Linked DNA regions of Homo sapiens: region 2 is linked to region 1. The links come from fine-mapping of genetic effects on gene expression. A gene starts in region 1. The other region holds a variant in brackets. All regions are shown on one strand. Distances are from middle to middle.

What was found. PIP is the estimated chance that this variant, and not a neighbour inherited with it, causes the effect.
Region 2: its variant is fine-mapped to the expression of VCAN in cerebellar hemisphere (GTEx, PIP 0.95).

What each region holds. Positions count from the first base shown.
Region 1 is chr5:83,469,446-83,473,445 of GRCh38, forward strand. It overlaps VCAN (versican), which reads left to right and starts at 2,299. Exons shown (of 15, transcript NM_004385.5): 1 at 2,299-2,578. RefSeq lists an enhancer at 2,728-3,600.
Region 2 is chr5:82,622,187-82,626,716 of GRCh38, forward strand. No RefSeq gene overlaps it. Among named protein-coding and RNA genes, the nearest start is that of MIR3977, 220 kb to the right of the region's middle. The variant G/A (reference allele first, on the strand shown) is at 2,479.

The DNA.
Region 1 (4,000 bases):
TAGAGAATCAAATTTGGCAACATAAATGAAAACATCTCAGAATGTAAAAAGTATCTAACCCATCACTTTCAATCATGTTCCATTATATACAGATGGCATTATTTATAGTGAATGTTAACTATTAACATTTCCCTAAAAATGGGCATTAATCTGCTATTAGTTGCTTGTTTCTGATCTAGTTCTCCTTTGTTGAAAGGTTTTACTTAACTGTATCATAAAGGGACAAAAGGGTAAAAGATAATAAGCTTTTCAGACTGGCAGATCTGTCACTTACAAAATGGCCTTGGGCAGGTTACTTGAACTCTTTGAAACTCAACTAGATTTACTCAAATTTAAGAATGAGAATACAAATCCACATCTTGAAGTGTTTCACAGAAAGGTCTATCTTAATGTCTGGAGTATATATTTCAATGAACATTCATTTTATTTTATTTCTCTCCATTCCTGAATCAAGCAATCTTGAATCTAAAGTTGCTATGATTAGCACTGAAAAGACCACTGGACTATTAATTGTGTGACTTTGGGACAGTAACTTTCTGCACCTTAGTTTGTTTACATGTTATACATGAAGGTTGAAGTCTGATTCTGCTCTGTGACTATCATTCTAAACATCTGATGAAATCAAATTTCAGTGTTTGGAATGGTAGTACAATAAATTTACTAAGAATAAATAATTCACTGCAAAAACACATTGATTTCCAAATGATGTAACTGACAGTTATATTACTGCAGAGGGCTGATAAATAACAAAAGAAATGAAAGATGCACATGGTGAGAACTGAAATTATCCTGACAAGTCTTCTACCTGTTTATCACTTAAAATCAATGACCATGCTGAATGCCTACAAATTACAAAATATAAAAGAAATCTTATAAATGCGCATGTACAGGAGTCTAAGTTACTAAAAGTTTTAAAGCATAAGTTTAAACCAAACTAATCAAAGAAGTTGAGAGGAAAAATTGGCTTTCATCTTTAATCACTACTGTTTTGAGGTCCTATGTTTAATATAATTTTCTAAGTAGAGGCTTCAGAGAGAAGAGTTGTGAGGATACTTTCATATTTGTGTAGAAGGAAAAGTTTGCCATCCATTCTAGTATCCCTAGTGTTATACTGATGTGCACCTTGGATTTATTTTGTTCCTATTGTATAAACTCATACTTGACTTCAAAGAAAAGGAAAATCCAAAGTCCCTCTTTTCTAAGGGGACAGAAATCCTTTGTGTCAACTGTTTGACCCTTTTCTCTGTAAGGTCCTATTGGAAATCTTTTGTAACACAATGCAGGGGACTCTTCCATGTGTTGATGCTGTTTACACAGTGGGGTGGGCCTGACTGAAGAAAAAAAATCGCATATACGCATGAAAGATTATGGTCTTATTTCCGGAAAGCATGAAAGGTGATTGATACTTCCAAGAAGTCCCTGTTACTCAGGAAAATTATCAAATATTCTACTCAGAGATACTTGGAAAGACTGAAGGAAAGGAAGAACGAAGAAAGCAGAATCTAGACTTATGTGGGGAGAGATTTGTGGCAGAGGAAAAGTATTCTCTTTGAATCCGACAAGGGATTTGCCTGGGGGAATTTCCTGTCCAGCCTTTTATTACCAGGGTCTTTTGAAGCCGGGCTCCCCATTGGGCAGTTCCCTGGGAGTGCAGTGGGGAATTCTTACACTTTCCCTCTAGGTCCCCGAAGGATCTCGTTTTCTCAGTGTCTCTTTCAGGTTGGCAGGAGCCTTGAGCCTGACACTTCCCTTTGATGGGACAGGCAAGCTCTGTGGGCGCGTAAACACGCTGTAACCAAGTTCTTTGCTGATTTTACAGTTTTGTGTGCTCCCGAGAAGAAGTGATCGTACTCAATTGTCTATTGCTGGCCTGCCCCCTAAGAGCCTGGGGGCTCCTTTCCCCTAACCCAGAACTAGCTGCACGGGGGGCGGGGAAATGGGGGTGGGGAAGGAGTGGGAGGGCAGTGGTTTCCGCGAGCAGAGCGATGTTACTGAGTGAGTCCCTGAATGGGGAGCGCTGCTGTCCCCAAGCCGATTGGTACTTCTTGTCAGGAAGAAACGCCAAGAGGTGGGAGTGCCTGGGGAGGGAGGCAGGCGGTCCCTACCGCAGGCGCGGGGAGCTGCCTTTCCGCCCCTCCGCCTGCTTTCCAAGCCTGGACTCTTAGGAGTGGCTGAAGCTGCGGAGCGCTTTTGGAGCCTGTGAATGAACCCTCCTCCTCTCCCTCCTCCTTCTTCTCGCTGAGTCTCCTCCTCGGCTCTGACGGTACAGTGATATAATGATGATGGGTGTCACAACCCGCATTTGAACTTGCAGGCGAGCTGCCCCGAGCCTTTCTGGGGAAGAACTCCAGGCGTGCGGACGCAACAGCCGAGAACATTAGGTGTTGTGGACAGGAGCTGGGACCAAGATCTTCGGCCAGCCCCGCATCCTCCCGCATCTTCCAGCACCGTCCCGCACCCTCCGCATCCTTCCCCGGGCCACCACGCTTCCTATGTGACCCGCCTGGGCAACGCCGAACCCAGTCGCGCAGCGCTGCAGTGAATTTTCCCCCCAAACTGCAATAAGCCGCCTTCCAAGGTAATCACGTTTCTTTTGTTCCCCCCTTAAAAAACAAAAACAAAAAACTTATAGAAAAAAACCCGCGAGCTTAGAAAAAAGAAGCAATTGGTAGAAGGCTTTAATTAAGGCAAAGAGCTGTAAGGCGAAGTTAAGAAAATGTAGGCACTTAAAAAATGCAGGTAACTTTCATAAGGGCTTTTGGGGAGAGGCATACAGAGGGACCTTGGTGTTGAAAAAGATTCAGACAAAAGAAACCCAGGGTGGGGTGGGGGGTAAAATGACTAACGGAATTGGGGGAAGGGAGGGAATAAATTGTAAAGAAATCATAGAAAAGTGGTGGGTTCTTGAGCTGGAGAGAAGAGAGGGACCTTTGGCACTTTGATTTTTTTGTTGTTGTTGTTCTTAACACGCTCGAGGCAAAAGTTTGAATGGGGACTACCAAGACTTGCCACAGACAAGTCCCCGAAGCCGCCTTGGTGCAGGCCACCTGGTTTCCCAGCCCCTGGTGTGTGGTCAGTGCCTGGTGTTCCTGGAAAGCCACTCCCGGGCAGCTCCTGACAGTGCGACCCGGCGCCCAAGCAGCCTGGGACCTTGCGCGGACCTGACCCCTTCAGACCGCAGGCAGTCTGGGAGGAGGTCCGGCCGGGGGAGGTGCAGGATCCCCGCCGTGTCTCTTTGACGACTTGGGGACTGTCACGGTTCTCTCCCGGCGCCCCTGGGTTCTTTTGTCCTGCACGCGGTGCGAAGGGGCCAGCAGGGAAGGAGCAGAGGATGGGGGGTGGGGTTGTTGGAGCCCCGCGGAGGTCTGGGAGGCCCCTGGGCGGGAAAAGCCTGTTCTGAATCGGCAGGGATGTGCAACAATTTTTCTCACCCTGAAGAGTGAAATAGGGTCTGTCGCTCCCATCTCAACAAGCAAACCGGCACCCAGAGCGCACTGCAGACAAAGGTGGCTCGGGGACCCGAATCAGGGGCCTCTGGGTCAGTCCTCTCGCCCAGACTACAGGAGTCCTCCGTTTCCTTACATATTCCCCACCCTCTCCTAGTTCTCCGCTCTAGTTGAGCAACTTTACTGGCAGGTCTAGCGGCAGCGGCGCGCGCGTGTGCCGGGAGCCCCGGGGGACGTCCTCGGCTGGAGCGCCCCACCGTCCTGCAGAGGCGTGGGCGCTGTAGGGCGACATCCCTGGTGCGTGCAGACCTAGGGCATCCGGGTTGTTCTGGCCCGCGGTCTGTGTCACTGGGCGTGGAGCGGTCTGGGTGTTAGGCAGAGGAGAGCGGGGTAGAAAAATAGTGTCATAGCCTAAACTATTTGCTCTCCAATCCAACTGCGTCTCGGCAAGTCCTGCATGTCCCTGGGAGATGCTGCGGGAAGGGGGAGAAATCTACACGGCGCCTGGAGAGTTGTCCTGCCGCGCGCACACCCGCGGCAGAGTCTCTCTGGGT
Region 2 (4,530 bases), 850 kb before region 1:
AAGACCATAATTTTTAAAAATATTTTCTGCGAATGGGTAGAAATTATTGACAGTGAGTCTCACTCAGCATCTCGGGGCAAACTGCTCTGTGTTCTGTTTTGCCCTAGTTTGTGGAATAAGCCCTCATAAAATTCACATGCCTAGGACCTGTGGTTGCCTGTGGAATTATTTCATCCAACAATGAAATATTTGGATGGCTGATGTGGGCTACCAGCTGGCTAAACATTGGTGAGACTGGGTGTATTGAAATGCTCTCAGTAGTAGAAGTTGGCAGACAGTTCATGGAGATACCAACCGCTATGGCAGGACTGTGTCCAGCCAATAACGGGGAATATTATAAGAGTGAAGGCAAAACCTCAAGCCTACAATATTTATAAAGTGTTTTGCAATTGCAAATAGATTTTCTAGAGTCATTTTTCTCACACTTAAAAGTTTGCTTGTATATCTAACATCATCCATATCCTGATATAAAAGTAAATATTCCTTTAAGGAAACAATGGTGGCTTGTTCAGGGCCCCAGACCAAATTTCTGGAGAGACCATCTCACTGTTATTGTTTAAGTCATGTTGACCTGCGGCTCAGAAAATGCATTCTCAGCAGCTGTCTTTATTCTTCTTACATGTTAGCTGTCTCCCATGACAAGCCTTTAGGGTTACCAAAAAAAAGATGTATGTTGAAAACTCTTATTGTTTGTTTTTCCTGCAGTTCCCTATAAAATGTCAGTATTTTTGAAGAGGTTCTCCTTAAATTGAACCCCTGAGGCTGGAGATTTACCAGGTTGATTTAGGAGTTTGAAATCCTGGAGTGTTTCCATAAAATGAGGATTTACAGTTCATAAATATAATGACAAAAGTGTGAAGATACATTTTTGTCCTTGAAAAACTACTGGAACAAAAGTACTTTTCATAAAAGGCCCACAAGCTGCTATTTCCTTCAGACAGAGGCCTATCCTGGCTAGGAAGAGTGAAGTGGCGTTTTATTGCCACTTGTTTAAGATGGTCTCCCTCTCTGCTTCTTGGGGAGCCACTTTCTCCTGACAGGTACACAGGTGGACATCGGAATTGAGCACTGCGACATTTAAGCAGCGACAAGTATAAAGAAATAACAGGAAAACATGTTAATAGGTAGAGCACATTTCTTTTATTTGCCCTGTTCCTGCCTGGGTTCAGCTTCTGGATCACTATAGTCTGGTTGTGATCTTTGCTCTCAGATCGTTAGCTGAGTTCCTTCTTGCATATGGCACCAAACAACCTGGTTAATAATTGACATTAAATTATCTGCTGTGACAAACTGTTTAGGGAAAATATATGCCATGCTTTGGCTTTATAAAATGTTAAGGGGGGAACACTAAGGAAACTGTGTCACTAATGGACCTTGTTTTTTTGTTTTTTTTTTTTTTTGAGATGGAATCTCTCTCTGTTGCCCAGGCTGGAGTGCAGTGACACAATCTCAGCTCACTGCAACCTCCACCTCCCAGGTTCAAGTGATTTTCCTGCCTCAGCCTCCTGAGTAGGTGGGATTACAGGCGCACACCACCATGCCCGGCTAATTTTTGTATTTTTAGTAGAGATGAGGTGTCACCATGTTGGTCAGGCTGGTCTCGAACTCCTGACTTCATGATCCGCCCGCCTCAGCCTCCCAAAGTGCTGGGGTTAGAGGTGTGAGCCACCATGCCTGGCAAATGGACCTTCTTGATAGATGATAGAAATGGTGTGAGGCTAGCAGTTATGTAGCTCTGCAGAAAATGGCCTAGGTTGAATAGCAGCAGTGGATTCATGAGTTTGGGGAAAACCTCTGGATTTTCTTTCAATTTAGTTGTGAATTGAATTGACATAATTTTCAAACTTAGGATGAATGTTGGAGCTTACCCTGAGGTTAAAGAAGGGACAGCCTTCCAGATTTGCTTACTTTATCCCAATTCTTGGAAAGGCAGAATCATGTCTCCATTCTACTCTGACTAATTCACTTCTATAAATGTCTAGTAACCTAGAAGGAGGGAGGAAGTGTTGTGCCCACCGCACACCTACTTCCCTTAATGCTGATGTTTGGTTATAATTAGAAATAACTTTATATTGTGGAAAGAGCACTATGCCATGAGTCAGACAAACTAAGTTCTAGTCATGGATTCACAACTGATAATAGTTTCCTGAGCAAAGCAAGATACATTGAGATTGAAAGGGAGTATTATTAACACTTATACTGGTCCACAGGCATTAACCAGGACTGTTGTGAGGAAACTGGGATGTATGGCCATTCTTCTACTTCCTGTGTGTTTGGGCAAGATAATATTCTAAGGGAATATTGAAGGAACCGAAGTAGAATGGGCTCCTTTTGGTAGTCTTTTCCTGTAAACCAGCATAATTTTTAAGAAGTAAGACCTAATGTAAGGAGAGGGCTGTGTTTGAAGAGACATTAGGGAATACTGTAGATCCCGATGGTGCAGTTAAGCAAGCCTATAGCTGTGTATATTTGGCATCT[G/A]ACCAGAAATATACAGTTCTGACATTTTGGGGAATTAACTTTGCTGTTAAGTCATTGCAGCCCTGGAGACTAAAACTCAAGGACTCTTGGTCCTCCTCATGTCATAATTTGACGTTCCTTGGCCTAAATCTGGCGATCAGCCTCGGGCCCTCTGCCTCATTGTTTTTTGCAGAATTAGAAGGAATCAAGATACTTTCTGTAGAGCTCCTGCTACCACACTGACAACTGTGTTCATGGCCCATGTAGCCCAAACCTCTTCAGCCATCTGCTCAGCCTACTGGCCACAGTTCTGAATTAAGCAACTGGAGGCCAGTCATTAACAAACACCTTCTGTTGGCTTATACACCATGACCAAGAAACTTCAATTGGCAGTTTGAGGTCATACAAGACACTTAACTTGAATATGTTTTATGCAGGAAAATCAACTCATAGGTACTGCCATGTAAGCATTATACATATTGATTAAATAATATTAATGCAAGGTCCATGGGCAGGTTATATACAAAATGACTCTGTTGCCACATAAGGAGGTTGTGGCTGTATGAGCATCCCTTTAAATCATGCAACAATATTTTGGAATATCTTTCAAGTAGGTAACAGGGCTAATTAGGTCATCAACAAAGATTTGTGTTCCCCTTCCATAGAGTAAAGCTGGGTGCTAGGAGGCTGCTGTCCACCTAGGATCTAGATTTCCCTGAATATCAGGCATAGGTGGAGCCTAGTGTCTAGTTTCTTCACAGTGAAACATGAAGAGATATCTTTCTGTAGTCTTGTCTCCATATACCAGTGGAATGTGACTGTCTCCAAGACCCTGGAAGAAGAACCCTGGGTCCCTACATAATCATGTGAAAGGCTACTAGCCAAGGAAATTAATGTGTGAGAAATATAACTCTATTGTGTTAAGATTTGAGGGGTGATATGGTTTGGCTGTGTCCCCACCCAAATCTCATCTTGAATTGTAACTCCAACAATTCCCACATGTCATGGGAGGGACCCAGTGGGAGGTAATTTAATCATGGGGGCATGTCTTTATTATGCTACTTGTGATAGTGGGTAAGTCTCATAAGATCCGATGGTTTTATAAATAGGAGTTCCCCTGCACAAGCCCTCTCTCTTTGCCTGACACCATCCATATAAGGGACTTGCTCCTCCTTGCCTTCTGCCATGATTGTGAGGCCTCCCCAGCCACATGGAACTGTAAGTCCATTAAACGTCTTTATCTTCCCAGTCTCGGGTATGTCTTTATCAGCAACATGAAAATGGACTATACAGTAAATTGGTACCAGTAGAGTGGGGTGCTGCTAAAAAGATACCCAAAAATGTGGAAGCGACTTTGGAACTGGGTAACAGACAGAGGTTGGAACAATTTGTAGGGCTCAGAAGATGACAGGAAAATGTGGGAAAATTTGGAACTCTCTAGAGACTTATTGAATGGCTTTGACCAAAATGCTGATAAAGATATGGACAATGAAATCCAGGCTCAGATGGTCTCAGATGGATATGAGGAACTTGTTGGGAACTGGAGCAAAGGTGACTCTTGTTATGTCTTATCAAAGAGACTGGCAGCATTTTGCCCCTGCCCTAGAGATTTGTGGAACTTTGAACTTGAGAGAGATGATTTAGGTTATCTGGCAGAAAAAAAATTCTAAGCAGCAAAGCATTCAAGACATGACTTCGGTGCTGTTAAAGGCATTCAGTTTCATAAGGGAAGGACAGCATAAAAGTTTGGAAAATTTGCAGGCTGACAATGTGATAAAAAAGAAAATCCCATCTTCTTAGGAGAAATTCAAAGTGGCTGCAGATATTTGCAGAAGTAATGAGGAGCCCAGTGTTAATCCCCAAGACAATGGGGAAAATGTCTCCAGGGCATGTCAGAGGGTTCTTCATGCAGCCCTTCCCATCACAGCCCTGGAGGCCTAAGAGCATAAAATGGTTTTGTGGTCTGGGCCTAGAATCCCTGTGCTGTGTGCAGCCTAGGGACTTGGTTCTCTGTGTCCCAGCTGCTCCAGCCATGGCCAAAATGGGTCAATGTAGAGCTCAGGCTGTAGCTTC